Regions from separate parts of the Homo sapiens genome. Here regions 1, 2, 4, 5 and 6 are each reported to be linked to region 3. Evidence: microRNA targets listed by miRTarBase, many of them from high-throughput screens and not tested one by one. Region 3 holds a microRNA gene; each other region holds the end of a gene's coding sequence.

The links. Region 3 holds the annotated microRNA hsa-miR-454-3p (UAGUGCAAUAUUGCUUAUAGGGU, at 3,126-3,148, shown strand). A microRNA usually pairs through its seed, bases 2 to 8, with sites in the 3' UTR of a target mRNA and lowers its output. Matches are read on the target gene's strand: a 7mer-m8 pairs with bases 2 to 8, a 7mer-A1 pairs with bases 2 to 7 and ends in A, and an 8mer does both.
Region 1: miRTarBase lists ARHGAP12 as a target of hsa-miR-454-3p. Seed matches in the 3' UTR shown: 7mer-m8 at 4,277-4,283 and 7mer-A1 at 3,344-3,350.
Region 2: the mRNA of MED12 is a reported target of hsa-miR-454-3p. The part of its 3' UTR that is shown has no 7-base or 8-base seed match.
Region 4: miRTarBase lists GRSF1 as a target of hsa-miR-454-3p. The part of its 3' UTR that is shown has no 7-base or 8-base seed match.
Region 5: the mRNA of CSPP1 is a reported target of hsa-miR-454-3p. The part of its 3' UTR that is shown has no 7-base or 8-base seed match.
Region 6: miRTarBase lists ZNF431 as a target of hsa-miR-454-3p. Seed matches in the 3' UTR shown: 8mer at 718-725 and 7mer-m8 at 416-422.

What each region holds. Positions count from the first base shown.
Region 1 is chr10:31,803,270-31,808,382 of GRCh38, forward strand. ARHGAP12 (Rho GTPase activating protein 12) reads right to left here. Exons shown (of 20, transcript NM_018287.7): 20 at 2,129-4,563. The coding sequence ends at 4,389. Among named protein-coding and RNA genes, the nearest start is that of MACORIS, 98 kb to the left of the region's middle.
Region 2 is chrX:71,141,292-71,146,404 of GRCh38, forward strand. It overlaps MED12 (mediator complex subunit 12), which reads left to right. Exons shown (of 45, transcript NM_005120.3): 43 at 1-79; 44 at 592-673; 45 at 884-1,159. The coding sequence ends at 927. It overlaps NLGN3 (neuroligin 3), which reads left to right and starts at 3,550. Exons shown (of 8, transcript NM_181303.2): 1 at 3,550-3,673. It overlaps LOC124905197 (a long non-coding RNA gene), which reads right to left. Exons shown (of 4, transcript XR_007068262.1): 4 at 1,255-2,336. RefSeq lists a silencer at 4,366-4,621.
Region 3 is chr17:59,135,935-59,140,934 of GRCh38, reverse strand. It overlaps MIR454 (microRNA 454), which reads left to right and starts at 3,063; the gene lies at 3,063-3,177. The region is part of intron 1 of SKA2 (spindle and kinetochore associated complex subunit 2); the gene reads left to right.
Region 4 is chr4:70,819,660-70,824,659 of GRCh38, forward strand. It overlaps GRSF1 (G-rich RNA sequence binding factor 1), which reads right to left. Exons shown (of 10, transcript NM_002092.4): 9 at 4,635-4,709; 10 at 1-1,202. The coding sequence ends at 4,660. Among named protein-coding and RNA genes, the nearest start is that of GRSF1, 18 kb to the right of the region's middle.
Region 5 is chr8:67,194,851-67,199,963 of GRCh38, forward strand. It overlaps CSPP1 (centrosome and spindle pole associated protein 1), which reads left to right. Exons shown (of 31, transcript NM_001382391.1): 31 at 532-1,764. The coding sequence ends at 743. ARFGEF1 (ARF guanine nucleotide exchange factor 1) reads right to left here. Exons shown (of 39, transcript NM_006421.5): 39 at 2,808-4,248. The coding sequence ends at 4,084. Among named protein-coding and RNA genes, the nearest start is that of CSPP1, 130 kb to the left of the region's middle.
Region 6 is chr19:21,183,008-21,188,120 of GRCh38, reverse strand. It overlaps ZNF431 (zinc finger protein 431), which reads right to left. Exons shown (of 5, transcript NM_133473.4): 5 at 1-5,113. The coding sequence ends at 4,087. Among named protein-coding and RNA genes, the nearest start is that of ZNF431, 44 kb to the right of the region's middle.

The sequences.
Region 1 (5,113 bases), not on the chromosome of region 3:
TATACCAATACATTTCTTAGAACATATCCTCATCACTAACAGTCACATGACTGTATAAACAATTTCTCAAAATGCCGAGGAGGAAAAGGTGGCCTTGAAGTCTGTGCTGAATTTTCACTGGTTACTCCACCATGACTTGACAGTGGTTTTGATTTCTACCTCTGCAAATGTTCTGTTTAGGAAGACCTCTACAGCATCATTTGTCACTCTCATGTCACTATGGATTTCATCAATATAAATTTATGACAGTGTTACAAGTTTCTAAGCTACTTGCAGTATGAGCCACAACTATCATAAGTACTTGAAAGATCTGGCTACCAGCATTAATAATTAAAAATCTTTACCAAAGACTGCTTTTCTGAAAACCTTAAAAGAGAGGAAATAAAATAAAGGGAGAAGAGGGTCGATGAGAAAAAACATGTATTGTAAATACGTATTGTAGTAATTTGTTAAACAGTTACCTTGTTGTACAAGTGCTCTGTTTATGAGAGCACCATAAAAGTGGTTTCTTTCTTTCGTTTCCCGCCCCCCGCCCCCCCGGCCCTGTGGGAGAAGGGAAGCAATGAAGGAAATGAAAGAGTTCATTTAAGTGCTATATTCACATAAGGCTAATTTGTAAAAGCTCAATCCAGCTGAATATACTTGCAGCCACCACTGGACCACAAAACTTCAGTTGAGCAGACTAATTGAGATTCTTCAGGAGAACTCCCTTGTCTTTGGTAGTTACAGATGTCTCATTAGGCATTCTGTACCTCCCCCTTCTCTAGAATACTAAGTCTGACTCTGCCCGGCCTGAGGACACAGCCTGTGAATTCCCAACAGATTCTAATACACCATCATTGTAAGACAGTTGATTTTGTTTTGCACCCATTTGATTTTTGTTTTTGTTTGTCTCAAACTAAAGTTGCAATTAATAGTACTATGTTAGCTGCACTGGAATACTGTTTAAAAAAAATAACAACAAAAACTATGCTCCGCCTCCAAGACTGTAACATGCAGGCTAAAGGCCCTATTAAACACTTTCTGTAGTCTTACCCAGAGAATTGCTTTCTATAAAAGAAGATCATTAGAGCTCATGGCTGGAGTTCAGGGAGAATAGTAAACTCCATAAAATCTTATTTTCTACCCATTTTCAATTCTCTATAGAGATGCAATATTTGAACATTTGACTTTTATTAGACTAGTGAGAGCGTGGCGCCCACTTGACTATTTTTATTTTCTTCTTTACTAAAAAGATGTGTTGTGGACTCCTCTGTGTATTTCTTTAAAAATGCCTAAAGATCTTTGAGGAATTCGAGTCATGGGAAACTACATGTTTAAGTATTTAATTAGAAGCCTCTCCCATGAGCTGGAAAAAATCTCTTGGCACAATTATGGAATAACTATTTTCCCTTCACTGCTGTCTTTTTTTTTTTTTTTTGAGACGGAGTCTCACAGTTACCCAGGCTGCAGTGCAGTGGTGCGATCTCGGCTGACTGCAACCTCCACCTCCTGGGTTCAAGTGATTCTCCTGACTCAGCCTCCGAGTAGCTGGGATTACAGGCGCCTGCCACCATGCCCGGCTAATTTTTTTGAATTTTTAGTAGAGACAGGGTTTCACCATGTTGGCCAGCCTGGTCTCGAACCCTTGACCTCAAATGATTCACCTGCCTTGGCCTCCCAAAGTGCTGGGATTACAGGCGTGAGCCACTGCGCCCAGCCCACTGCTATCTTAATGTTCAATATTGTGGGCTTGCAAAGAAGCGTGGAATGAAACTGAAATAGTAAAAAGGTCTCCATGTATCTGCATTATTGGTGAGTTTTCACTTGTATGTAAGCAACGGCGTGCACAAACACTTAGCACACACACACGTTTGTGTGTATGTTATAAACGCACAACCCATCTACCACTAAGTCCAAAGTTTCACCAAATTATTTCATTTGTGCTTTTCACATAAAAACAATTTATAGATTTGTCTCTATCTAAAATATAAACATCATTTTTTGGAGATTATTTAATAATTAACGTACTTTCTCCAGAGTAAAGGGTAAAATTTCTTATTTCTATAAAATTTAAATAAGTGTTTTTCTTCTAATTGGAATGTGACAATGTATTTAAATATACTTTCTTTTCTAAATCTGCAACTACCTTTTTCAATGACATTATGAAGGAAGACTTACTAACAAATAAAATTCCACTGATAATTTATTTCAGCTTTTAATATATTTTCTACTATAAAACCAAGCTGTCAAGACAGGAAAATATTACTAGCTTTGTTATTACAAAACAAGTGAGAATTTTTAATTCACAAAGGATGAAAACGCAAGACATTAATCTCACTGTACATACAATATTACAATAAACTGATTAGCTGTAGACTAATAAAACATTTAAGACTTCACACACACACACACACACACACACACACACACACACGTACCTTGAAACAAGAAACACAGGACAATTTTAATCTTTGATATATGTTCATGAACACCAAGAACAAGAACATCACTGATTTGAGTCTAATTGTTTTCCTGGTATACAATCACTAAATAAGCAAGATCTAAAGCATATTGTATTATTAAGGACATCTTTAGGCAAATATAAACATTCTGATTTAGGGCTTTTTCTCCCCACCCGAAACAATCTGCTTTAGCTATCAAGTAGTTTGGTTTGTTATCAATTTAACACGCTCACAACAACAAATACAGACTTTCTACCACAAAATTCAGGTGAGAGGTTTTTAGACAGATCATACAAAAAAATACTTGTTCCCAAGGAAGGCAATCTGTAAATTATAAATGCAACCCTAAGAAAAAAAAATCCTGGTCACAAATCACTCGCTTTCAAATATTGATGGAGAAATAAAAAGTGTACGTTGTGGGTGGAGAAATGTTGGCATGGAAGAGAGGAGAAAAGGTATGAAATGAGGAAAGTGTTATTTGCCACAGGAAATATTGGATTCAGTTGATTTTTAAAAATGAGGTATAACAGTATGCCAGTAAATGAAAAAACAAAAAAATTAGAAACCAAAATGCACATTTCCAATGGAAAAATCTCTAAACCTCTTATAGTTTTATTAGACATTTCATGTACAGAAGTTAATCTAGAAAAATACATTTTAAAAATCTTCAACAGACCATGCTCCCTGTAACAAAACCTTCCAAACCCTGTGTTTTATTATACAAAGCAATCTACATTAGTAGGTAAAAAGAAATTCTCAAATTTAGCAATGTCATTTTCCATCCAACATCCATCTAATTTACAGATGGGTTTCCACTATTCATACTGGAATTAGAATTCTGTAATAAATTTTTTCTAATGTTTTCTGTACATATTAAATAACCCAAAAGGTTCCTCTTGTAGTGCATGTGCCATTTAGCAAGTCTATTCAGTATTTTTCCAGTACCATTCTCATTACAGTGATTTGCCTGTAAATGTAGTTAATATCTAAAAGTGCACACAGTTAACTTTCCCAAATAACGGACTATTTCTGGAGGAAACCTAATATTCACAGAAAAGATTACCAATAACAATGATTAGAAATGTAGGGTTAGAATGTACTCTGAGACTATACAACACAATTATATACACAAGCTAAAGGACATTAAGTCTTTAGCCTATATTTACATAAAATAATGTGTGTTTCCACAGGGTCATACCAATAACTCAGTATGGTACTAGATATAATTAGGATTGTTAGCTACAATTCAGTATAGCAAGACAGCCCTAAAATGCCCTGAACTGACTTCCGCTAACTAAAACTCCAGTATATCACAGTGTTTTAAGTAATATTAGTGTGCTGCCCAAACAAGCAACTAAGATATCCAGTAAGGATGCTGTGTAACACAGTAAAAGACAGCAAGCCTTCATCAAGGGGTTATTTTGGGGTTATAATGAATTTTGGCACTTAAGACTGCCACTGCATGCAGAAACCCCGAAAAAGAAATACACAGGTTTCAAAATGGATATACTTCATTTTGTTTAAAATGCCCAAGAGCCTTTGCAACATAACTGAAAGTATTGTTCTATCAAGTCATGAATCTTGAGAAGAAAGTACATTATCCAATTTCAGGGAAAAAAAATACAGTTTTCTTACCAAATTATCCAGTGTATATGACTGGTTAGAATTTTAAGTTTTGATTTTTACTGAAATTCAGAGTATGAAATGCAAACATTCAGGATAAAATGAATTCATAATTACACGCAGTTATATCAACTTGCAACAAAGCAGCAAATATGAGGGCCTAACACACATCTCGACTCTCCCCTTCCCTTCTGATCCCTCAAAAAAAAAGTGCAAAATCAAAGAGTCACTGCTTGGTCCAAAAAATAAAATACATTGTGTATAAACATTTGAAATCTGATGGAATCCAGCTTCTATTCCACAGGTTGTCTTCAGTAAGAATCAACGTCCGAAGATGGAACTCAGTTCCAGAAGAATTAATTCTACAATCTGATTCTGGTACACAGTATGAACTGCTATATTACCAGTCTCTTTTTCTGGTTTTAATAGAGTGGGACCAAAAACAATTGCTATACTCTGATAGGTCATTCGATTTTTCTCTCCATTTTCTATAACTCTGAAGGGAAAAAAAGAAGTTGTTAAAAGAGAAAATAAGAGAGAGGGAAAATTCTTCAAATGGTATTATAAACCTAACAGTTTGCATTTTAAAAAGAGAAGTAATACTTATTTTCCTAAGGTGATGCATAAACTATTTAACCAAGTAGAATTCTGTCTAAATGCCATGTGAAGCTTTCTTTTTGATAAACACAGCTGAAAGATACAATTAAGCATACTCTAACAAACTTAAAATGTGTGATATTTTAGCTTAGTTTTTAAAATAGAACATTTAAGTATGAGTTACAATTCAGGTAACAGTGACTGCTCCATTAAGTTGATGGGAAAAAAATCTCATTAGGGTGTGGAGATTAAACTTTCCATTTTACTCATTTTATGTAATTTCTTTAAAAAAAAAAAACTCTCTCTAGCTGGGATTTTTTGTTTTAGTATTCTAGTGTACTTTCTATCAGATGAAAGAACTTGGTTATTAAAGTGGCTATGTAGTAACCTAGAACCATGACGGTAACTTAATACACCTCAATTAATATCCAATCTCATCTTCATATTAA
Region 2 (5,113 bases), not on the chromosome of region 3:
ACAGCAACAACAGCAACACCAGCAGCAACAGCAGCAACAGGCGGCTCCTCCCCAACCCCAGCCCCAGTCCCAGCCCCAGGTAGCTGCTGGACTACAGCCCCAGGCTCAGGGACAGCTGCCCAGGTTGGGCACGCAGCCAGTGAACTGGGTTGGGGACAGTATGGAATAGGGTAGAGGTGGGAGGCAGGGCATGGCACCCTAAAAATGGATTGGGAGGCCAGGCGCAGTGGCTCACGCCTGTAATCCCAGCACTTTGGGAGGCCAAGGCAGGTGGATCACTTGAGGTCAGGAGTTCAAGACCAGCCTGGCCAAGATGGTGAAACCCCGTCTCTACTAAAAATACAAAAAATAATAATAATAAATAAGCCGGGCATGGTGGCAGGTGCCTGTTATCTCAGCTACTCAAGAGGCTGAGGCAGAGAATTGCTTGAACTTGGGAGGCAGAGGTTGCAGTGAGCCAAGATCATGCCACTGCACTCCAGCCTGGGGGACAGAGCGAGACTCCATCTCAAAAAAAAAAACGGATTGGGAAAGGAGGTTGAAGAAGGAGAAAAGTTCGACTTCAGTCTTCCACTTCCTATTTCCACCCAGTTCCAGCGCCAGGGGCTTCAGCAGACCCAGCAGCAGCAACAGACAGCAGCTTTGGTCCGGCAACTTCAACAACAGCTCTCTAGTAAGCCTGCCTGCCTTCCCAAGGAGAACCCCATGGAATAAATTTAGGGGGCGGGGTGGGCCAAAGTAGCTGAAACGATAGCTTCAGGCCCAGGTTATGAGAGGAGGCATTCCATTCCATCCCCTTCCCTCGATACCTGAACAGCTTTCCTCGTGCATACCCACACCCCTGCCTGGTCTTCCATCCCTGATAATCTCTGGTTTTTCACAGATACCCAGCCACAGCCCAGTACCAACATATTTGGACGCTACTGAGCCACCTGGAGGAACTGCTTGTGCACTGGATGTGGCCCCACCCTTTCCTCTTAATTCCCAATCCCATTCCTGGGCTAGCACCAGTAGTGGTTGGGGCCCTCCCCTCAGGCTCCATTTTTAATAAGTTTTTAGTATTTTTGTTAATGTGAGGCATTGAGCTGTTGGGTTTTGTATATTATTTATATAGAGACCCCAGAGCTGTTGCACCCAATACACAGAGCTTCTTTGCAAAGGGAGTGTGCGAGTTCTGCATGTCTGGGAAGGGTGGTCTCTTGGGAGAATGCAGGGGGTTGGACCAACAAGTCAGAGTCTTCATTCTATTCTGATCATCTCCCCTGTTTACCTTACACTCTAAAATTTCTTTTTTTCTTTTTTTTTGAGACGGAGTCTTGCTCTGTCGCCCAGGCTGGAGTGCAGTGGCGCGATCTCGGCTCACTGCAACCTCTGCCTCCCGGGTTCCAGCGATTCTCCTCCCTCAGCCTCCCGAGCAGCTGGGATTACAGTTATGTGCCATCACGCCCGGCTAATTTTTGTGTTTTTTTTGGTAGAGACAGGGTTCCACCATGTTGGCCAGGCTTGTCTCGAACTCCTGACCTCATGATCTACCTGCCTCAGCCTCCCAAAGTGCTGGGACTACAAGCGTGAGCCACCGCGCCCGGCCTAAATTTCTTAATTCTAATTGGATTGCTACCCTCTCTTCCTCTTCTTCAACATGGCAACACATTAAGGTATAGGCCCTTAGTCTCTTTTTATTTATTTTTGAGATGGAGTTTTGCTCTTGTCGCCCAGGCTAGAGTTCAGTGGCACAGTCTCAGCTCACTGCAACCTCCACCTCCTGGGTTCAAGTGATTATCCTGCCTCAGAGCCTCTCGAGTAGCTGGGATTACAGGCATATGCCACCAGGCCTGGCTAATTTTTGTATTTTTAGTAGAGACGGGGTTTCACCATGTTGGCCAGGCTGGTCTCGAACTCCTGACCGCAGGTGATCTGCCCGCCTTGGCCTCCCAAAGTGCTGGGATTACAGGCATGAGCCACCACACCCGTCCCCTTAGTCTTTTAAGAAGGGGCAATGAACATTCTCAACTAAATGTTGGAGCTTCTTTACAGCTTTCCTCCATGGGGGATATACCGCTGGGATTGAGGAGGGGCCATTAGGCCAGGGGAAACATCAATAGAACCTGATTCTTCTTCCACAACACCCCAGATGTTGGGCCTCAAACAAGCTGGGGAGGGTGGAGATGACAGACACTGCCTACCCTTCTTGTCATCTTGTGTGGTCCCCATCATGCACCAAGTGGCATACCTTTCATAGGACAGAGAACTTCCCTGAGAGTCACATTCCTGGATGAAAAATTGCCCTCCATTGGCATGTGCCATCATAGAATAGGTCGTGGAAGGACCGTTTGGTTCTAGGAGGAAGAGAGACCAGTAAAAATAAGCACCCTTTCTCTCTCTGCCCTACTGCCAGAACTGCCTGTTCTCACGTGACCCACCTTGGCAGTTACCCAGGATGACTTGCTCGCTCCCATTTTACAGTAGAGAAAACTCAAAACTGTTGCCCCAGAGTCACATTTGGAGCTGCGGCAGGGCCATTCTCGCCCTCTTGCTTTCCAGTTTGAGTTCTAGATCCAAGGCTGTCCAGGAGAGCCAACTGGTTTACTACAATGGAGTCTTGGAGTCTTCTGCCCTGCCTAGCTAGGGCTGGAAGAGGATCAGCCTCAGCCTTGTGAGTGGGTGGTACAGGATGATTTGACAACTTAAGGATAACATGCAAGCCATAGTTGCACCCTATTACTGGGAAGTGTCTAGTGTGCTGGCAAAACCAGGAGCACCAATCAGTACCCAAGTTATAAAAAATAAAATAGCCCTCTTTGAGGCCCACGAAGCCCTTGCTTATATGGGACTTACCAAGTTTAAGAGTTGCGTGCACAAGGAATGGAACTCCCCAACAGTGTAAAGGCAAACATGACTGAAGCTTTCTTCTCACTTATTCTATCCTGACATAAACATTCTGAGGAGCCACAGGAGTACAGGCTTGGCTGGGATGAGGGACATTCAGAGGGGCTTGGGGGTTGCTAAACAAATGGCAGGTGCGCCACATACAAAAACACAAGACACAAAGACACTGAACCTGGAGGGGAGAGACTGAAATGGTCAGACAACTGGCATGCTGACAGTCTGACATGCCCCAGCAGAAGCAGCAGAAGGGAACAGCATTGACCTTTGGGAGAGTGACAGGATGAGAGCAGAGTGGCCCCACTGGTTGCTGCTTGGGTAGTGCTGGCGCTGAGAAATAAGGGATGCTGATTGAGGTGGAGGTGTGTTTTTGTGTAGTATGACTGAGGGTTCCTGCAGGCAGTGCCTCAGTTTCTCCCTTTGGGACAAAGTCTCAAGCTTTGCGGGTAAAGTTTGGGCTAGCTGCCCTGGAAGATCACCTGTCTGATAGCTTGCAATCTGAGGTGTGTGTGCGCGCCCGCGTGAGAGAGAGGGAGCGGAACGTGCCTGAGCATGGGGGGAATTGGGCCATGCCCCAGGACTTGAGCCATCTCTGGCACAAAAGGAGTTAATGGCAGGGACCGCGCCCCCCCGTGTCCGGGAACGCGCAGCGCGCCCCCTCGGTGCGCGGGCACAGCAGCCAGGCTGCCGGAGAGCTGATCTCGGGGATTCGGGTGCGGAGCCCTTGGCCTGGAGGCGATATGGGTGGTCCGTGGCCCGGTTCAGTCGCTTGCAGCAGCCCGGGGAACAGGTGAGGCCGCCTGCCCCGGTCTCTCATCCTCTAGCTGCCCATACCTTGCCCCCATCCTAACCCCTCCCAATCCCAGGCTCCTCCACTCCCCAGCCAGTGGCCCCCATCCCTCTCAACCCCATGTTCTCCATCGGTACCCCTGACCCCCGATCCTCCCCCGCTTCTGTTCTCCCTTCTACCTCCTCCCTAAATCCCGCATCCCTAACATCCTCCCGCCCATGGTCCCTCTATTTCCACAGCCCATCCCGCATGCTCATCAAAATACCCCTATTGAGGGCCCCCAGCCCCATCCCGGGATTGCACATTGCCAGTCCCCCCTCCCCTGCAGTGCAGCCCCATCCCCCTTCCATCATAGCATCTCATAGCCAGGCTCCCTCCCCCACTATCTGCAGCCCCCCCACCCAATGGAGGCCTTTATCCTATCCTCCCCCATTCCAGTGCAACTCCATCCCCCAATCCATTCCAAGCCCTCGTAGCCCCCAATACTGCAGTTCTCAATATTGGTCCATTCCTGCACAATGCCCCGCGCCCAGCACCGCTGCAGCCCCAAAAGTACCCCGAGATGCCATTCTCATCCCCGGCATTGCTGCCTCCCCTTGTCTTCTCCCAAATTGCAAGTTGGACCAGGATGGAGATCTTGGCCTTGGGGATTCACAGTGGGTCCTAGGGTACAGAGGGCGTTTGGGGGTCGGTCCGATTGTCTAGGTGTTCACGGGGGAGGGGCTGCAGGGAATTGACTCAAAGGAGAATTTGGCATTTGGCGCCGAAGGGTTACTGGAGAGGAGGGCATCCCGAAAGGGTTAATGGAATTTGTGGGTTGGGGGCAGCACCGAGGGGGTTAATGTGGGGGGGTTGCTGGTGGGGAAGCTGTGTGAATGAGCGGTCTGTGCCCTGGAGTTGCCATGGAGACGGTGAATGGGGGGATTGTGTGAACTCAGCTGCGGACTATGCCCCCCCCAATACACACACCCACCCACTCCCTCCTGCCCCACCTCCCTACTCCTACCCCTTCCTTCCCCTTCCCCTCCTCCCCACACCCGGGTGCATTCTGGGCAGTGTCTGGGATCTTACCCCCCATACTTTGCTCCCCATTTCCTCATTTCCTCTGAGCCCCCACCCCTTTAGCCACTTTACCCGCCCTCCCTCCTCTTCCTTTTTCTTCTCTCTCTCTCTCTCTCTCTCTCTCTCTCACACACACACACACACAGACACACACACACACACACACACACACACACACACACACACACACACACATTCTCATTCCCCTCTCGTGGTGGCTGATTGCCGGGCGTTCCCAATCTCCCTCCCCCACCCCTTCAGCCAGTTCTTAAAGGAGCAGGCCTGCAATCTGGGAAGGCGGGAGAAATGGAGGAAAACTAAATGTGCATGTGGCGTGGGTGTGCGTGTGTGTGCGTGTGTGTGCGGGAGCATGCGGGA
Region 3 (5,000 bases):
ACTAGCCTTTTAGGCCAGGCGCGGTGGCTCATGCCTGTAATCCCAGCACTTTGGGATGCTGAGGCGGGTGGATCACAAGGTCAGGAGATTGAGGTCATCCTAGCTAATACGGTGAAACCCTGTCTCTACTAAAGAATACCAAAAAAAAAAAAAAAAATTAGGCGGGTGTGGTGGTGGGCACCTGTAGTCCCAGCTACTAGGGAGGCTGAGGCAGGAGAATGGCGTGAACCCGGGAGGCAGAGCTTGCAGTGAGCCGAGATTGCACCCCTACACACCAGCCTGGGCAACTGAGCAAGACTCCATCTCAAAAAAATAAAAAAATAAATAGTACAAATAAAACTAGCCTTTTAGAGGCAGGGGCTTATGTATATATCCTAGCAATTGTTCCATAAAAGCCTGCAGATTGGGCCGGGCGCAGTGGCTCACACCTGTAATCCCAGCACTTTGGGAGGCTGAGGCAGGCGGATCACCTGAGGTCAGGAGTTCGAGACCAGCCTGGCCAACATGGTGAAACCCCGTCTCTACTAAAAATACAAAAATTAGCCAGGCATGGTGGCAGGTGTCTGTAATCCCAGCTACTCGGGAGGCTGAGGCAGGAGAATCGCTTGAACCCAGGAGGCTTGAACCCAGTGAGCTGAGATCGTGCCATTGCACTTCAGCCTGGGGGACAAGAGCGAGACTTCATCTCAAAAAAAAAAAAAAGCTTGCAGATTGGGAACTGATGAACCTGAAGCCCTTGCTCACTTTTATCCCCTCTGGTTGCCAATTGCCTGAAATAACATGTCTGTGACCTGGTGTTAGGGCATGTTACTGCTTATCTGTTTTGGACAAGCATAGTCATGCATTTGTTCTGTTTGGAAGAGAGAATGGGTAATAGTCAATACTTTCTCCAGCAGAAAAAGGCAAAAACCAATTTTGATTGTGGAGACATGATATAAGTGGTCCTTAGCTTGCTGGGAACTTGAAATATTTCCCTTAAAACGTGTTTTAAAGGGTAGTTGGGTTCCCAGGTGGTTTGTTCTTTCAAATGAATGAATGTTTGTTCTTTCATCTATTCCCTTTTGTCACTGCACATTAGGCTGTATATTAAAAACTAAGGATACAAAAAAGCGATCTCTTGCCAGGAAGATGTTTGAAACCATGTGGCGACATTACCATGTAAACATAGATTAAAATATAATACAGTAGATGGTAAACCAAAGCCATGAACAAAGTAAAAGGAGAGTAGATAAAGGTGTTTCTAAATGTACATTGAAGAGAAGAAAATGTACAAAAAGTAGATTCTGGCCGGGTGCAGTGGCTGACACCTGTAATCCTAGCACTTTGGGAGGCCAAGGCGGGCAGATTACGTGAGCTCAGGATTTCGAGACTAGCCTGGGCAACATAGTGAGCACTCATCTCAAAAACAAAAAAAATTTAAAAATAAAAATAAAAGTAGGTTTTTTGATTATAGCCAAACTAGTTCCATTAAGATACTTAATTCTCCCTTAAAATGTTTCTATGGAAAATGCATTTCTTTTTTTTTTTTTTTTTTTTTTGAGACGGAGTCTTGCTCTGTTGCCCAGGCTGGAGTGCAGTGGCGCCATCTCGGCTCTCTGCAACCTCTGCCTCCCAGGTTTATGCCATTCTCCTGCTCCAGCCTCCCGAGTATCTGGAACTATAGGCATCCACCACCATGCCCAGCTAATTTTTTGAATTTTTAGTAGAGACGGGGTTTCACCGTGTTAGCCAGGATGGTCTCAATCTCCTGACCTCGTGCTCCGCCCGCCTCAGCCTCCCAAAGTGCTGGGATTACAGGCGTGAGCCACTGCGCCCAGCCGGAAAATGCATTTCTAAGCCTGTTTAGTAAGTCCAGAACACACCTGTCTACCAACTCTTCTCTATGCCTAGCCCACCATAGGTGAGACTGAAATACTTTTTTTCACTTTATGTAATTTAATGCTGTTGAGATAAGGTCTCTCATAAGAGGATGTGTTTAGAGCTTTAAGGGCACTGGTCCTTTGTAGGAGAGCATACGGTGGCAATGAGAATCTAGGGGTTGTTTGTAAAAAGCAAGTGTTTTAAAACTGAGGACCACACAGTATATTGTGACAACCGCAATATATTCTTTTCTCCTTGCTGCCTAATAGTTGAGTAGTATGGAATACCTTGTGCCACTTACTTAAAGCCTTAAACTGGTCATATTGAAAACTAGACTAGAACAGGCTGGGCGCGGTGGCTCATGCCTGTAATCCCAGCACTTCAGGAGGCCGAGGCGGGCAGATCACTTGAGCTCGGGAGGTCAAGACTAGTCTGGGCAAAATGGTGAAACCCCATCTCTACCAAAAATACAAAAAATTTACTAGGCGTTGTGGCGTGTGCCTGTAGTCCCAGCTAGTCGGGAGGCTGAGGCATGAGAATTGCTTGAGCCTGGAGGCAGAGGTTGCAGTGAGCTGAGATTGCGCCACTGCCCTCCAGCCTAGGCAACAGAGTGAGACGCTGTCTCAAAAAATAACAAACAAACAAAACAACTGGTTGAGCATCCCTAATCCAAAATTCCAAAATCTGAAATGCTCCAAAATCCAAAATTCATTGGACCATTTCAGATTTTGAATTTTCAGATTAGGGATGCTCAACCAGTAATTATTATGCAAATATTCCAAAATAGGAGGAAAAAATCAGAAATCTAACTGGCAGAATGTAACCTGGTTTCCCTTGGGGTGCTTTCATGATGATTTCCATAGACTTTTTTCACCTAATTTTGTATTTTATATACCACTTTTCAGATCAGTATAAAACTTTTCCCCTTTATTTTTATTACTGATTTTAGAGAAAACTGGTTTCTGAAATACGAATATCTTGGGCTTTACAAAAATCACTAGTTTTATTTTAAATATTCCATTGCCCCTAAAAAGTTAAACAATAACCTCACTGATTTCCAAGGCTTCCAGGAGGCTGATTTGTAACTGAAAGGGCTGTGAATGATGTTTATCAGAATCAAATTTGCGCGATTTATCAGACACTAATGAGTTTTAGATTATCATAATTGCTTAGTGAATTTCTGCCATCTAACTAAAAAAAATTCTGTTTATCACCAGATCCTAGAACCCTATCAATATTGTCTCTGCTGTGTAAATAGTTCTGAGTAGTGCAATATTGCTTATAGGGTTTTGGTGTTTGGAAAGAACAATGGGCAGGCTGCAGAAAGTATGTAGCAGAAACAAGCAAAAGTCATCTTTAGGAAGAAAACAAGGAACTAGATTTCACTATAAACATTAAAATCTGAGGCTTAAATGTAAATTTTTAATTTATTAGAAGAAGGTAACTTTTCTTTTTGACAAATGGGTTTATTTGTAGTATAAAGAAATAATGGAATTTTAGTATTGAAAAGGATCTTAGATTCCAACTCATTTGATAGGAGAGACCCAAAGAAATGAGGGACTTAACCTAGGGACACATAGCTGGTTAGTGATACTAGGACTAGAATTTCTACCATGTATCCGAATTCTTTTATTTTTCTGTACCATACTACCATGTTGTGTTCAGAGGGAATTTTTAGTTGACTAGCTTTGTAACTTTAGTGATATTAATTTAAAACATAAAAAAACTTTAATTTTAGGTGAAGAATGTACATTTTTGGATGGGTGTGGTGGCTGACACCTGTAGTTCCAGCACTTTGAGAGGCTAAGGCGGGAAGATTGTTTGAGCTCAGGAGTTCAAGTCCAGCCTGGGTAACATAGCGAGACCTTGTCTCTACAAAAAAATACAAAAATTAGCTGGGTTTGGTAGTGCACGTCTGTAGTCCCAGCTACTCAGGAGGCTTAGGCAGGAGAATCAAATCTCTTGAGTCCAGGAGGTTGAGGCTGCAGTGAGCTGTGATTTGTGCCACTGCACTCGCCTGGGCAACAAAGCAAGACCCTGTCTCAAAAAGAAAAAAAAGAATTTACATTTTTTCCACATGTGTGACTCTTAATGGCTTAAATATCATCTATAACTTTGTCTAACTACATAAGAAAACAGTAATGGAAATAGAACTAGAGGCAAGTTACTTTGCTATTTTCTCATTTATAAAATGAAGGGTTCAGAGCAGACATTTAAGATGATTTTTCGGCTGGGCGTGGTAGCTCACACCTGTAATCCCAGCATTTTTGGAGGCCGAGGAGGGCGGATCACAAGGTCAGGAGATCAAGACGAGCCTGGCCAACATGGTGAAACCCTGTCTGTACTAAAAATACAAAACTTAGCTGGGTATGGTGGTGCACGCCTATAGTCCCATCCGCTCGGGAGGATGAGGCAGGAGAATCGCTTGAACCCGGGAAGTGGAGGTTGCAGTCAGCCAAGATTGTGCCACTGCACTCCAGCCTGGCAACAGAGTGAGACTCCGTCTCAAACAAAAAAAAAAAAGCTTATTTTTCTATCTTTCAACATTTTGGCATCCTTTTTGCCCCCTGCTTATTCCCTAGCCCACTGACTTCACTAATAAGCCAGTACTGGCCAGGCACAGTGGTTCACACCTGTAATCCTAGTACTTTGGGAGGCCGAGGTGGGTGGATCACCTGAGGTCAGGAGTTCGAGACCAGCCTGCCCAACATGGTGATACCCCGTCTCTACTAAAAATACAAAAAATGAGCCAGGCATGGTGGCAGGCGCCTGTAATCCCAGCTACTTGGGAGGCTGAGGCAGGAGAATCTCTTGAACCTGGGAGGTAGAGGTTGCAGTGAGCCCCGAGATCGCGCCACTGCACTCCAGCCTGGGTGACAAGAGCGAAACTCGGTCTAAATAATAATAATAAGTCAGTACTGCCCCTGTGTGTTATTAGACGTTCTATACAATTTTCCACAGAGGATAACATTCTACCCACAAGCTGTTTTTTTTTTCTTCCTTCCTCCCTTCCTTTTGGAGATGGGGTCTCACTATATTGCCCAGGCTGGAGTGCAGTGACTAGTCACAGGAGAGATTATAATACACTGCAGCCTTGAACTCCTGGGCTCAAGCAATCCTCCTGCCTCAGCTCTTTAAGT
Region 4 (5,000 bases), not on the chromosome of region 3:
ACCTGGGCAAATTTAATTTTAAGAACTAGAACTGCATCTCCTGGTGGCAGTCGTCACCCTGAGAACAGGAACAAGGCAAAGAAAGCATACAGGATTTTGATTCTCCTACACAGGTGCACATAAAGTTAGTTTATTAATGACTATATTTTGAAGCCAGCCATTTTGTCCAATATTTAAATAACAAGCTGTTTAATATTAAAGCAGAAAGTACTGCCACATTGTGACAGAAGTACAGCTTTATCCATAAACCCTTCACACAATTATACATTAAATGCTATTTTTATTTAAGCAAGGCACCCCTACTTGTTCTAAAATATGGGATGTACTACTCCATTTAAAAAGCAAATGAGGAGACTGATTTTTTTCCTATCTAGAGCTGGTTTAAATTCAAGTGAAGCCATTAATTTTCTTACCAGTCTGGACTGTTCTGACATGTCACTTCACAGTTTTGAGACTAACAAACACCCTTAGGTCTACCCCAAACCAAAAAAAGCCAGGGAGGGACAGTTTAGACAACTTTTAAGTTAAGACTAGAATGCCCCCTTAAGTAGATAGGCACCACCGTTATACGCCTTTAGCACAAGGCTTAGAAAGGCAAAACATTTCTAAAGACATAAAACCGCCAAATTGTCATTTACACTAAGCTGTGGTATTTTTTGTTTTGATTTTTAAAAATTCCTATCTCTAAGTAATCAAATACAGCAAAATTTAAAACTATTCTGCCAAACCATACCAGTTCAAAGGTCTGAAACCGTTCTTTGCTTTGGTGAATGTTTGGTTAAAATAAATCACTGTTTCACTCCATGAGAAGTTTTACATCAGAGCACTCAATTCACAGGCAAAAAAAAAAAGTTACTTTTTAAATGAAACCGTTTAAAGAACACTGCTGAATAAAAATATGTGGTCTTTACAATGAGTAACATATCATCTATGAAAACAAACCATTTAATCATATAAAACAAAGACCATATTTTTAAATCAGATCCTGGACAGTTTAAACAAAAATTTTAATTTGTGGTTTATTTCATAATCCCAAACTGGATCTTTCATTTCTTCTTCTAAACAGTCCACTATGAAACTTTTCTTAGAAGCAATTAACCCAAAACACCAAAATCATTTCCCTAGCAGTTGCTGCTAATAAACTGGAACTGTATATCCCAAGTCCAAGAAAGATGTGCAAATGAAATGCTTCTTGCTTCACCCTAAAAATAAAACAAAAAATATTGTACATTTACTCAAGATGAAAAAGGATGGCACACATTCCCATACCATTTAAAATTGCAAATTCAAATTTTTCTCCTTTCTAATTTAGTGCAAGCTATCTGATAAACCGAGTTAAAGTGAGGAAAACTAGTCAGGCATTAGTGTTTACAGGCTGGTACAAAAAACTGAGTTTCAGAATATATTTTAAATAGATTTTAGCTATTATAAATATTTAACACCAAAGAATTGTGGGACTTCATATCCAAAAATAGCAACAGAAGAGGCCAGGCACGGTGGCTCACGCCTGTAATCCCAGCACTTTGGGAGGTTGAGGCGGGCAGATCAGCTGAGGTCAGGAGTTCGAGACCAACCCGGCCAACATAAAGAAACCCCGTCTCCACAAAAATAAAAAATTAGCCGGGTGTGGTGGCGCATGCCTGTAATCCCAGCTACTGGGGAGGCTGAGGCAGGAGAATCACTTGAACCCAGGAGGCAGAGGTTGCAGTGAGCTGAGACTGTGCCATTGCACTCCAACCTGGGCAACGAGAGAAACTCCGTCTCAAAAAATAAATAAATAAAAATAAAATACAAAACTTAGCCGGGCATGGTGGCATACGCCTGTAGCCCCAGCTACTTCATAGACTGAGGCAGGAGAATCGCTTGAACCCGGGGGGCGGAGGTTGCAGTAAGCGGAGATCACACCACTGCACTCCAGCCTGGGCGACAGAGAGAGACTCCGTCTCCCAAAAAAAAAAAAAAAGCAATAGAATAGGATATAGTAATAGAATGAATGTCCGTGTTTTTTTGTTCCTTTTTTTTTTTTTTTTTTGAGACAGAGTTTCGTTCTGTCATCCAGGCTGGTGGAGTGCAGTGGCACCATCTCAGTCACTGCAACCTCCGCCTCCCAGATTCATGTGATTCTCCTGCCTCAGCCTTCCCAGTAGCTGGAACTACAGACATGCACCACCACACCCAGCTAATTTTTGTATTTTTAGGAGAGACAGGGTTTCGCCATTTTGGCCAGGCTGGTCTCAAACTCCTGACCTCAGGTGATCTGCCTGCCTCAGCCTCCTGAAGTAATGGGATTACTGGAGTAACCCACCATGCCTGGCCCCATGTGTTTTCAAGAAATCATTACAGGTAAGTGTCTCAAAAGAATGAGCCATTACCTGTAGAAAAGTGACTGCAATACAACAGTAATACTTACAATACCTTATGGGAAAAAAAAAAGACACCATATATTTAATCGAGGCAAGGAACATCAAGATGTATTAAGCAAATCTCACGGGTAGGTTAACACTATAAAATTATGTACTTCCTAAGGCAAAAAAAAAATGCCATTTTAGGAAAAGGAAACAGTGGCACATTAACTGTGTTTATGGATGATACACTCTGGTTTCACATGGTATCCTTTTAAAAATACCTTAAAACAGAAAATGGCTGGGCGTGGTGGCTCACACCTGTAATCCCAGCACTTTGGGAGGCTGAGGCTAGCGGATCACTGGATGTCGGGAGTTTGAGACCAGCCTGGCCAACATGGTGAAACCCCGTCTCTACTAAATATACAAAAATTAGCTGGATGTGGTAGAGAATGCCTGTAATCCTAGCTACTTGGGAGGCTGAGGCAGAAGAATCACTTGAACCCGGGAGGCAGGGGTTGCAGTGAGCTGAGATTGTGCCACTGCACTTCACCCTGGGCAAAAAGAGTGAGATTTCATATCAAAAAAAAAAAAAAAAAAAAAACAAAAGTAACCTGAGAAAATGGAAAACGTGTTTAAATTTAAGTGGGGAAAAAAAGCTAATGCAAGTCACATATCCAGTCTATTACGATTTATAGCTACTAAAGGTGGCTATTTTTTGGCAAACAGCATGATGTTGGAAATTATGCATAAAAATTCTATATGGAGATAATGCTCAAAGCTACCATATAAATCATAAGGAATTATGGCTGGGAGCAGTGGCTCACTCCTGTAATCCCAGCACTTTGGGAAGCCAAGGCAGGTAAATCACTTGAGGCCAGGAGTTAGTTCAAGATGAGCCTGGCCAACATGGTGAAACCTCATCTCTACTAAAAATACAAAAAAATTAGCCAGGCATTGTGGCGGGCACCTGCAGTCCCAGCTACTCGGGAGACTGAGGCAGGAGAATCACTTGAACCCAGGAGGCGGAGTTTGCAGTGAGCCCAGACTGCATCACTGCAATCTAGTCTGCTCAACAAAGCAAGACTCTGTCTCAAAAAAAATAAAAAGTAGGCCGGACACAGTGGCTCACGCCTGTAATCCCAGCACTTTGGGAGGCCGAGGCAGGCGGATCACCTGAGGTCAGGAGTTCAAGACCAGCCATGACCAACATGGAGAAACCCCGTCTCTACTAAAAATACAAAAATTAGCTGGGCGTGGTGGTGCATGCCTGTAATCCCAGCTACTTGGGAGGCTGAGGCAGGAGAATCTCTTGAACCCGGGAGGTGGAAGTTGCAGTGAGTGGAGATCGAGCCATTGCACTCCAGCCTGGGCAACAAGAGTGAAACTCCATCTCACAAAAAATAAATAAATAAATAAAATAAAATTTAAAAAAAATGAAAAAATATCATAATTAATTCTATTTCCCAGCAGAATTTTCTTTTTTTTTTTTTGCCCCCCACATCTGAGAAGCCAGAGCGAGAATTTTCATTCCTTATATTGACACTTCAATTATCATTAGTTTGATCTTTATTAAAAAGGAATGGTGCCAGGCGGGGTGGCTCACTCTTGTAATTCCAACACTTTGGGAGGCAAAGGCAGCAGGATCACTTAAGGCCAGAAGTTCAAGGCCAGCCTGGGCAACATAGTGAGACCCCATCTCTACAAAAAATTAAAAAATTAGGTAGGCATGGTAGTACACACCTGTAGTCCCAGCTACTTGGGAGGCTGAAGTGAGAGAATCACCTGAGCCCAGAAGGTTGAAGCTGCAGTGAGCTATGATCGCACCACTGCTAGCCTGGGCAACAGAGCAAGACCTAGTCCCTAAAAAAATTTGAAAAATAAAAAGAGAATGGTTTCTACCATATTACAAATTAGTGAGTGAATGATTATTAGTTTATCAATAGCAAATAATTTCCACAGTTGTATCTCTCTCTTTTTTTTTTTTTTTTTTGAGTCTCGCTCTGTTGCCCAGGCTGGAGTGCAGTGGCACAATCTCAGCTCACTGCAACCGCTGCCTCCCGGGTTCAAGTGATTCTCCCGCTTCAGCCTCCTGAGTAGCTGGAATTACAGGCACCCACCATCATGCTCGGTTAATTTTTGTATTTTTAGTAGAGACAGGGTTTCACCATGTTGGCCAGGCTGGCTTGAACTCCTGACCTCAGGTGGTCCGCCCACCTTGGCCTCCCAAAGTACTGGGATTACAGGTGTGAGCCACTGCACCCAGCCCACAGTATTACCTCTTAAATTTACCTTATTATCTGGAGCCCCTAGAGTCTTATTTTCCTTTTGGACATGAATTCAGGAACAGTTCAATATACCTATGATCTGAGGATAATGAGAAAGATTAGTTTTAAAAAGTTGAAAAGGTAGAAAAATATTACAGCCATTTTTCTCACAGTTCAGACAGCAACTCAAACCCTTTGCCCTTTCCTTTCCCTAATTAAAAACAAAATTTAGGCCAGACACGGTGGCTCACGCCTATTGTAATCCCAGTACTTTGGGAAGCCGAAGTGGGAGGATCACCTGAGGTAAGGAGTTCAAGCCAGCCTGGCCAATGTAGCGAAACCCCATCTCTACTAAAAATACAAAAATTAGCCAGTGTGGTGGTGGGTGCCT
Region 5 (5,113 bases), not on the chromosome of region 3:
CCTTGTTAGATTAGGTGTTTTAAGAATGGAAGTAATCTCATGCCAACTAGTGTTTTCCCAAAATAACTTAATAATTTCCTTATAGCAGTGTTGTAGGTTGAAGAGTATTCCCCAAACCTTGCTTTAAAAAAAATAAAAAGAAAAAAGAAAGAAATTTTATGTGTAGCCATTAGGCTTCTCCTGAGGTAACAGTTACAAAATAAGACTACCTACATTCCTCCTGTTGACTTTGTTTTATGGAGAGGTGCCTTTGATATGCTTAGAATCCCTCTGGTTGCTAGTGCCATGGAGTCAGCTTACTCAGTTGATCATTTTTTGTTTTACAAAATTGGCCTTTGTGGGCCCACTCTCCTCCCTCTAAAATAGGGTGGGGTGGGGTGAGTCTAACCAAAACAAACAAACAGTAGAGTTCAGGATATGAGACTGTGGGGAAATGCTGAGTTGTAATGAGTTGGACTACAAGAGACCTGCGCTTATGTCTCCTGCCTGCCACCTGTGTTACCTGAGCCACGTGTCCCTTGCCTCCTGTAGATGATGAGAGTTCACTGGTTGACCCTGATGACATCATGAAACACATAGGGGATGACGGATCAAACTCTGTAGCAACTGAGCCCTGGCTCCGCCCTGGCACTTCAGAAACGCTGAAACGTTTCATGGCAGAGCAGCTGAACCAGGAGCAGCAGCAGATTCCTGGAAAACCAGGCACTTTCACTTGGCAGGGCCTGTCGACTGCACATGGTTAAAATAAACCTGTACTGGACCCAGTAGTGCCTTTTAAGGTGAAAGGAATGGTAAATCTGTACCTTTAATATGTCCTACTTTTGGCCCCTACCTGAAAGTTACTTTTTTTCCATCATCTGTATATAAAATTATTTTTATCATGATGTATATTATGTACATAAATAAAAGGCCATGATTATTGATTTATATAATAGAATTGTATAGATTATTTTTGCACAGTTTTGTCATAAATTAGGGTGGTAATGAACTGGATTGAACTACTATATGTGCATTATATTGAATTCTGCTTGTCATTAAGATAAGGTGAATAAGTGTCTTAAACGTCCTGTAAAACCGGACTCCCCTTTGTTACATGCACATTTTCCATTGTTACCTCGATGCAAAAGAATTCATTTAGTAGGTACATCTATTGTAGCTGTGATTATTCCAGTTTCTGTGTGATGCAATCAAATGTCCTATTAATTAATTATTATTTCATGTCATTTGTAGCTACTGATACAGCAGAAATGAAGGGAACTGTAATTACTTGTATTTTTGTAAGCCATACGTTAAATGTTTGTTACATCATCTTTCTGCTTCTATTTTTATGCCAATGAAGGCATTTGTCTTGTTACTAATTACATGATGTAACTACTTCTTGATATAAATAAATTTTTATTTTAATTACTAAAATCTTTTTAACTACTATGGAGCTTTCTAGACTAGTTTTCTAGAGGTTGAATAGAGGTGGGGACACCCGGGAGTCAAGGACAGAGAGACTGGAGTCTTCTTCTTCCACCATGGAACCTTGGATAAGTGAGTCCATGTGAGTTTTCTAATCACTCAGTAAGTGATACTTCTAAAAAAGGAAAGAGTCATTCAAATAATTGTGACATTCTGACTCAGATTAGAATCTCAGAACCATGACAGCTGAGAACATCCCCAGGCACTGCTTCTCTCTCTAATAATACTTCCTCTGATGTAATTAACGGTTGGTAGACAATATCAGACAAATTTGCCACAATTAAATTACTGATATTTTGAGTTTTGGCTACTTGTAAATTTTTATTTGATTTTCTAATCGGACCATTGTTTGTTTGCTTTACTCGTAAAAATTTGTTCTGTTGTCATCTGAAAGTAAGAAGAAAGCCTCTGACTCTTCTAGGGGAAGAGTCCTGATACTACAACATTAAAATAATCAACTGCCAGGTTGTGTGGAGCACTTACCCTCACACGGCAAGGTCACAGTGGCTCGCAGTTCTAGCATCCAGCTGGGCTTGAACACAGCTAGAGCTGTCTTGGGTGTAACAAATACAGCACACTTACTTACAAATGCATTGTTCAGTAACTGTTCATTATCTAAGAGAGGTGTGAAAGCAAAGACTGAATACTTTTCCTCTTTAACACAACCATGTTAGATGATATTGACACGTTCCCTTTTTGTTTAATGCCATGTACCACACAACTTCAACTGACTCCTCGAACACACAATATTGCAAACTGTGCTGAAGAGAACTTTAGCTCTTTTCAGCATTCAAGTAGTGTAGCCTGATGCTAGGTTATTAATATGCAAAAAATATTAAAAGATTTTTGGGCTGGATATGGTGGCTCATGCCTATAATCCCAGCACTTTGTGAGGCTGAGTTGGGAGGATCACTTCAGGTCCAAGAGTTTGAGACCAGCCTGGGCAATATAGTGAGATCCCATCTCTAAAAAAAAAAAATTTTTTTTTAATTAGGCAAGTGTAGTGGTGTGTGCCTACAGTCCTCACTACTGGGGAGGGTGGAGTGTGAGAATCGTGAGCCCAGTTTGAGGCTACAGTGAGCTGTGCTCATACCACTGCACTCCAGCCTGGACAACAGAGTGAGATCCGGTCTCTAAAAGATAAATAAAAATTTTAAAAATTGCCTTAAAAATAAGTATCCTATGGTAAGTACAGTGTAAGGAGGATCTAATGCTAGAAGCTGGAAAGAAAATACCAGAACCAAACAATATTGAATTTGTAGTTCTGGCTGAAAATGTCTTTTCCATAGTTGTTCAGCCTTAATAGACCAGAATCAATGAAACATGGGGGTGGGTTATACAGGTTTTGATTGCACTGATGAAATAATTCAAAAACTTTATTGACCTATAACCTGATTAGAATATGCCAGATGGGAATCAATATTGTACAGAAAGTTGTACAGAATTTTTTACATAGAAAACTTTACATCTGTACCATATACATTTTGTCCATCTGAAAAAATTTTCTACATCCACTGTTAATACGGAATGCTTGACAATCTTGTCTTTTAACCATCAGAGCACAATTCACAGTATGAATACATTTCCAGTAAATCTAACCTCCGCAAACCATGCCAGATTTGTTATTTTAATATATTCAACGTTAAATTCTGTACATAGAGTAAAATCTACATCAAGCCCCACCACCCAAAAGAAAAGAAAATGACAGCAATCTGGATTCATTTTGCAGTGATTCAAGTTTTGGTCCATAAAGGATCATTCTATTTTAATGGCTCATCTTTAAAAGTCCTAAGAGAAATATGTGACAGGTAGTTACTGTCAGTAGGGATATTTTCTACCTTTTTTTCCCTATTGTTGAAGTGTCGGCCACAACAGCTTCTGGGCATGTTACAGCCTCAAAATCACCACCTACCAAAAAGGGCAAAACTAAAAATCCCTATAAAATAAAAAAGAAAGTTCCACCCAAATGTTTAGTGCATTTGACAAAATATTATGGGTATTTAGCAAATGAATAAGAAAATAAAGAAAACAGTGCAGGAAGAACTATATAATGTTTTAAGATTTTTATATTACAGACCTGCATCTCTGTACATTTTTCACAGGATGATTACCAGTATCTCAGATAGCCTGAGTGTGCAAAAATCTTCAGAATAAGAATACCATAGTTGCTAAATATCTTTTACCATGAACAATAATTTCTTCTTCTCTCCCCACTCCCCAATTATAAACATTTTATCCTTCAAAATACAGCTCTCCTGAGTTGTACTTCTTGTAGAAGTTCAATCTTTACATCTATAGTTCTTTGGGTAAGTTTCACTTCCACACCTGCCAAAAACGTGGGGCTTTTCCTGCCGTGGAAGACAGGGAAGGACCCGTGAGCATGAGCTGACACTGTTTAAACAGGCTTTCTGCTCAACATGAGGCCAATATAACACACAAAATCCACCAGCACTAAAAGGGACTGGAGTGTTGCAAGTTTGAGTAAGACTTCTAAGCATCTTTACCAGTAACTCAGACACTGCAATCCAGAGAAATCATTTTTCAGGTAGGAAACCTCAGCTCCAGCGTCCTTTTAAAGAGCAGAGGGATGTAAATGCCAACAAAAATATTAAGTTCCCATCATTGCTTGTTTATTCCAAGTTCCTGTTCAGGTGGTTGTGATATCTGAAAAACTACTCCGATTCGCAGAAAAAATCTTCTAAGAACAGCACGAAGTTCAGGAATCAAGTCAAATTGCATAATTTCACATAAGAGAGGGTAGTAGAATGATGCATGAGCTTTAAACTGCAGGGAAAATGAATTTCTCCATTAGTAGTGATTGCAAACTGCAGAGCCTTAAACTGCCTAGAGTCAAACTACTCTGGGGCTCCATCACAGGAGCCAGGAAAGCAGGGTCCACAGCAGGCAGTGACTCTGGTTTGTGGAACTGAGAGACAGAAGTGTTAGAAAAACTCACTTCATACAAACACTATTCACTTACATATCCTTATTTTGAAAAACATTTGTCTGTATATCTTTGACAAACTTTTAGTAATTTAGCACTGTTTTTCCTGGGTAATAAGCAGCAGGCAAGTGAGTACAAACTAGAGTTGAGATTTTATAAGCTATGGGTTACTGAAATTTTATCTTTTGTTACATAAAAATTTTAAGTTTTGGGGAAAATTCTACCCAACACTGCAATATAAAATCTAAACAGTTCTTCAGGCAAAGCTACATACGTTTCACATGTACAGTTCAATTGCTATACTTTGGCTGTATCTTCACAGTAGTTCCTTCATCTCTGAACTCTAGTCTGCAGCCTCCTTTCCTACCCCTTCTGTACCCCTCCAGATCCAGGGAAGCAGTGAGACATATTATGACCAAAAAAAAAAAAGCCAGCTGTGGAGTAACAGAGGCTGGGATTTAGAGCCCTTGGCCTTTCAAGTAGTGGGCCACATCACTAGGCATTTTTAAACCTATTCTAGGGTCACAGCAAAGCAGCCTGTATGTGTGAGCTGTAAGTTGCTATTTTTTTTTCTAAGAATAGAGTGTACATTTTTGAAAACCTTAAATATGCACTTATATTTACAGTCATATATGTGTATTTTATCTTTATTTCTACTGGTTTAAAATTCTTAGATGAGGCCCATTCACTAGGGACTCTGGGTTA
Region 6 (5,113 bases), not on the chromosome of region 3:
ACGCGTGGCTAAATTTGTATTTTTAGTAGACACAGGGTTTCACCATGTTGGTCAGGCTGGTCTCAAACTCCTGACCTCAAGTGATCCACCCTCCTTGGCCTATCTCAGTGCTGGGATTACAGGCGTGAGCCACACCTGGCTGCCTTTTAACTGTTCTGATAAGCAAACTCTACAGTTAAAACCAATTTTTGTGTGCACTAAAAATACCAACTTCCTCATCAAAATCTACAAAGTACCATGTGAAATGAAATGGCATGAAGACAACAGTAAGAAAACTGTAGCTATAACTCAGAAAAAGAATAGCTGTGATGCATACATAGTTGGAAAATGCATAAGACAAATCTGAAGAGAAGTAGAAAATAAAAGAATTTCTCTTTTTTTTCAGATGGAGTTTCCCTCTTGTCGCCCAGACTGGAGTGCAATGGTGCAATCTCGCCACACTGCAACCTCCACCTGTCGTGTTCAAGCGATTCTCCTGCCTCAGTCTCCCGAGTAGCTGGGATTACAGGCATGCGCCACCACACCGGGCTAATTTTGTATTTTTTAGTAGAGATGGAGTTTCTCCATGTTGGTCACCTGGTCTCAAACTCCCGACCTCAAGTGATTCGCCCACCTTGGCCTCCCAAAGTGCTGGGATTACAGGCGTGAGCCACCACGCCCAGCTCTTTTTTTTTTTTTTTTTTTTTTATATGGAGTCTCGCTCTGTCGCCCAGGCTGTAGTGCAACGGCACAATCTTGGCTTACTCCAATCTTCACCTCCGGGTTCAAGCAATTCTCCTGACTCAGCCTCCCGAGTGGGATTACAGGCACCCACCACCATGCCTGGCTATTTTTGTAGTTTTAGTAGAGACTGGGTTTCACCATATTCATCAGGCTGGTCTCAAACTCCTGACCTCAGGTGATTCATCTGCCTCTGCCAGAATTTCTCTTTAAATTCAACAAGATTCAGTTTTACAGTCTGGAAAAAAAATGTCCTCTCTATATGAACAATCAATCTTCACCATTGATATTTTTCATCTTTGACTTGAAGTTACAAACTAACTTCAGCAGGAATATTTATGAATTATTATGGATAATCTATTACACAGTGAAAACTGTAATATATGTTTGCTACATTTATATATAAAAACATCCTCATGACTAATGAAGCCTCCCTAGTACTTAGCTGAACAAATTGACTCAATAAATATGCTTATGTCAATTATAAAAAGTGAAAGGAACAAATCACTAAAGAAAACCTATATATTGTTCTCCTCTTAAAAGAACAAAATGGAGTGCTCTAACTAAATAAAATGTAACTTAATACACTACTTTTGGAATTACATCTAAAGATTATTTTGTGTGCACTAAATTTCATAAAAATTCTTATAATCGCAGACCAGCTCACATAATGAATACTTCATAAAATATAAAACAAAAAAAATGTAAGAAACAAAAAAAGTATGGGTCTAGCATGAGTACCAGGCAAGTATATACAGAGAATTTGCTTGGGAAGATTCAGAACTCTAAGTCATAGACTGTACAGTAATAAATTCAATACAAACCAAAAAGTATACATTTGCTTTCAGCATTTTTTAGGTTTTTAGTTTTATAGTAGTCACCATATTAAAATGATTTTTGTTCCCGTATCATTCTTTCCTTCTGAAAATATGTACAAACTCATACTCACACACACATACTTAACTCCATAATTTTCTTACACCTAAGATTTGTCTTTAGACTAACATGTATTTAACTCTATATGAATCAAAACTAAAAGTCTGTATATGTTTGCAGGCAGACAGGCCACATGTTCAAAGAAAAATATATAGAAAATTTGAAAATATATTTTACTTTTTGAGATGGAGTCTCGCTCTGTTGCCCAGGCTGGAGTGCAGTGGGGTGATCTTGGCTCATTGCAACCTCCACCTCCCAGGTTCAAGCGATTCTCCTGCCTCAGCCTCCTGAGTAGCTGGGATTACAGGCACATGCCACCACGCCTGGCTAATTTTTGTATTTTTAGTAGAGACGGGATTTCTCCATATTGGCCATGCTGGTCTCGAACTGCTGACCTCAAGATCCACTCCCTCGCTCAGCCTGTCAAAGTGCTGGGATTACAGACGTGAGCCACCACACCTGGCATGAGAAAATATTTATTAAGAATTTAGAAATGAATTTCATTTATACTCGTATATAATTTTTATTATGACGATAAAAATAACACTGTGGTAAATAAAAATTTAATTGTACATTTAAAAATTTTTTTTTAAAGTGTAGAATTGGATTGTTTGTAAAACAAAGGAGAAATGCTACAGATGATGGATGCCTTACTTAACCCTGCTACTATTATATATTGTATTCTCCTATTAAAATATGCTACAGGCTGGGCGTGGTGGCTCAAGCCTGTAATCCCAGCACTTTGGGAGGCTGAGGCGGGCGGATCACATGAGGTCAGGAGTTCAAGACCAGCTTGGCCAATATGGTGAAACCCCATCTCTACTAGAAATACACAAATTAGCTGGGCATGGTGGCTGGCACCTGTTATCCCAGCTACTTGGGATGCTGAGGCAGAAGAGTTGCTTGAAACCAGAAGGCAGAGGTTGTAGTGAGCTGAGATCATGCCAATGCACTCCAGCCTGGGCGAAAGAGTGAAACTCAGTCTCAAAAAACAAACGAACAAACAAACAAAAGAATCTCTCTCTTTGATGTAGCAACAATTAACCCCATGCTTTCACATGTGAATCCAATAGGAATGAAGAAACAACAGGAAATAATTTCAGAGTTGAATGATGACATTATTCAATTTTCAAAAAATCTGTAATATTTTTCAAGAAATAAAGTATACTTTGAATGTAATTATAACTCTGCAAAAAACCTTCTGATCCTCTTAAAGTTCTATACAAATAACTTTTCTACCAACTTTAGTTTCAGATTTTCTATACTTAGCACTCTGATTTAGTATATCTGAAGTGTCAGTACCTTATATATTTCTACCATAAATTCTCTGATATTTGCATAGACTTAATTATGGATTAAATATTTTACTTTTACTGCATCTGGAAAAAATATATTCTAGTATAACTGTTGATTTCTAAGCTGTAGTTTTTGAAAAATTGTTTTTCCAAATTTATTATATTTGCACAATTTTTCAATATAAATTCCCTGATGTTGAACAAAGTTTGATCAACTGCTTCAGAGTTTTCCTCTAGAAGAAAATGTCTACAAAAAGATCTGTGATACAAGTAAAGGCACTACAACCCTTTTTATATTTGTGATGTTCAACTTCAAAATAAATACTCTTCACTAAAAAAGCTTATATTTTCTGAAAGATCTTTTGACAGTAATTGCACTTATAATGCTTTTATTAAGCAGGAACTCTCTGTGTTGAGTAAAATGTGAGCAGATAATGATGGCTTTTTCACAGTCTTTATATTTGTATAATTTATCTCAAGTATAAATGCTTTCCTAGCAATAAAGTGTGAGCATTAAGTTTTGCCATATTGTTCACACATGTAGGCGTTTTCTCCAGTATGAATTATCTTACCTACAATGAAGTGTGACAACCATTTAAAGGCTTTATCTCACTCTTCAGATTTCTAGGATTTCTCACCAGTATAATTACTTTTATGGTTAGAAAAGTTTGAGGCGTTGTCAAAAGTAGTCACATCTTTCTGATTTGTAGAGTTTCTCTCCAGTATAAATTATCTTATGTCTGTTAAGAATTGAGGGCTTCTTAAAGGCTTTGCCATGTTTTTCACACTTGTGGGGTTTTTGTACAGTATAAATTTTTTTTGAGACGGAGTCTCACTCTGTTGCCAAACTGGAGTGCAGTGGTACAATCTTGGCTCACTGCAACTTCCACCTCCCAGGTTCAAGTGATTATCCTGCCTAAGCCTCCCGAGTAGATGGGAATACAGGCACGTGCCACCACACCCAGATAATTTTTGTATTTTTAGTAGAGACAGGGTTTCACCATGTTGGCCAGGATGGTCTCGATCTCTTGACCTTGTGATCCACCCACCTCAGCCTCCCAAAATGCTGGGAGCCATTTTGCATAAGCCACCGCACCCGGCCAATATTTAATGCTTAGTAAGAGTTGAGGACTGCTTAAAGGCTTTCCCACATTCTTGACATTTGTAGAGTTTCTCTCCAGTATGAATTATTTTGTTTAATAAGGTTTGAGGACTGGTTAAATGTATTGTCACATTCTTCACAGTTGTAGGGTTTCTGTCTAGTATGAATTTTCCTATGTTTAGTAAGAGTTGAGGATTGGTTAAAGGCTTTACCACATTCTTCACATTTGTAAGATTTCTCTCCTGTATGAATTATCTTATGTTTAGTAAGATTTGAGGATCGGTTAAAAGCTTTGCCACATTCTTCACATTTGTAGGGTTTCTCTCCAGTGTGAATTCTCTTATGTGTAGTAAGGATTGATGACTGGCTAAAAGCTTTGCCACATTCTTCACATTTGTAAGGTTTCTCTCCAGTATGAATTATCTTATGTGCAGTAAGTTGTGGGGACCGGTTAAAAGCTTTGCCACATTCTTCACATTTGTAGGGTTTCTCTCCAGTATGAATCATCTTATGTGTAGTAAGGTTTGAGGACTCATTAAAGGCTTTGCCACACACTTCACATTTGTAGGGTTTCTCTCCAGTATGAATTCTTTTATGTTTAGTAAGGGTTGAGGACCAATTAAAGCCTTTGCCACATTCTTCACATTTGTAAGATTTTTCTCCAGTATGAATTATCTTATGTTTAGTAAGGTATGAGAATCGATTAAAAGCTTTGTCACATTCCTCACATTTGTAGGGTTTCTCTCCAGCATGAATGAACTTATGTGTACTAAGGGTTGAAGACTGGTTAAAAGCTTTGCCACATTCTTCACATTTGTAGGGCTTCTCTCCAGTATGAATTATCTTATGTGTAGTAAGGTGTGAGGACCGGTTGAAGGCTTTGCCACATTCTTCACATCTATATGGTTTCTCCCCAGTATGAATTATCTTATGTGTAGTAAGGGTTGAGGACTGCTTAAAAGCTTTGCCACATTCTTCACATTTGAAGGGTTTCTCTCCAGTATGAATTCTCTTGTGTCTAGTAAGGGTTGAGAACCATTTAAAAGCTTTGCCACATTCT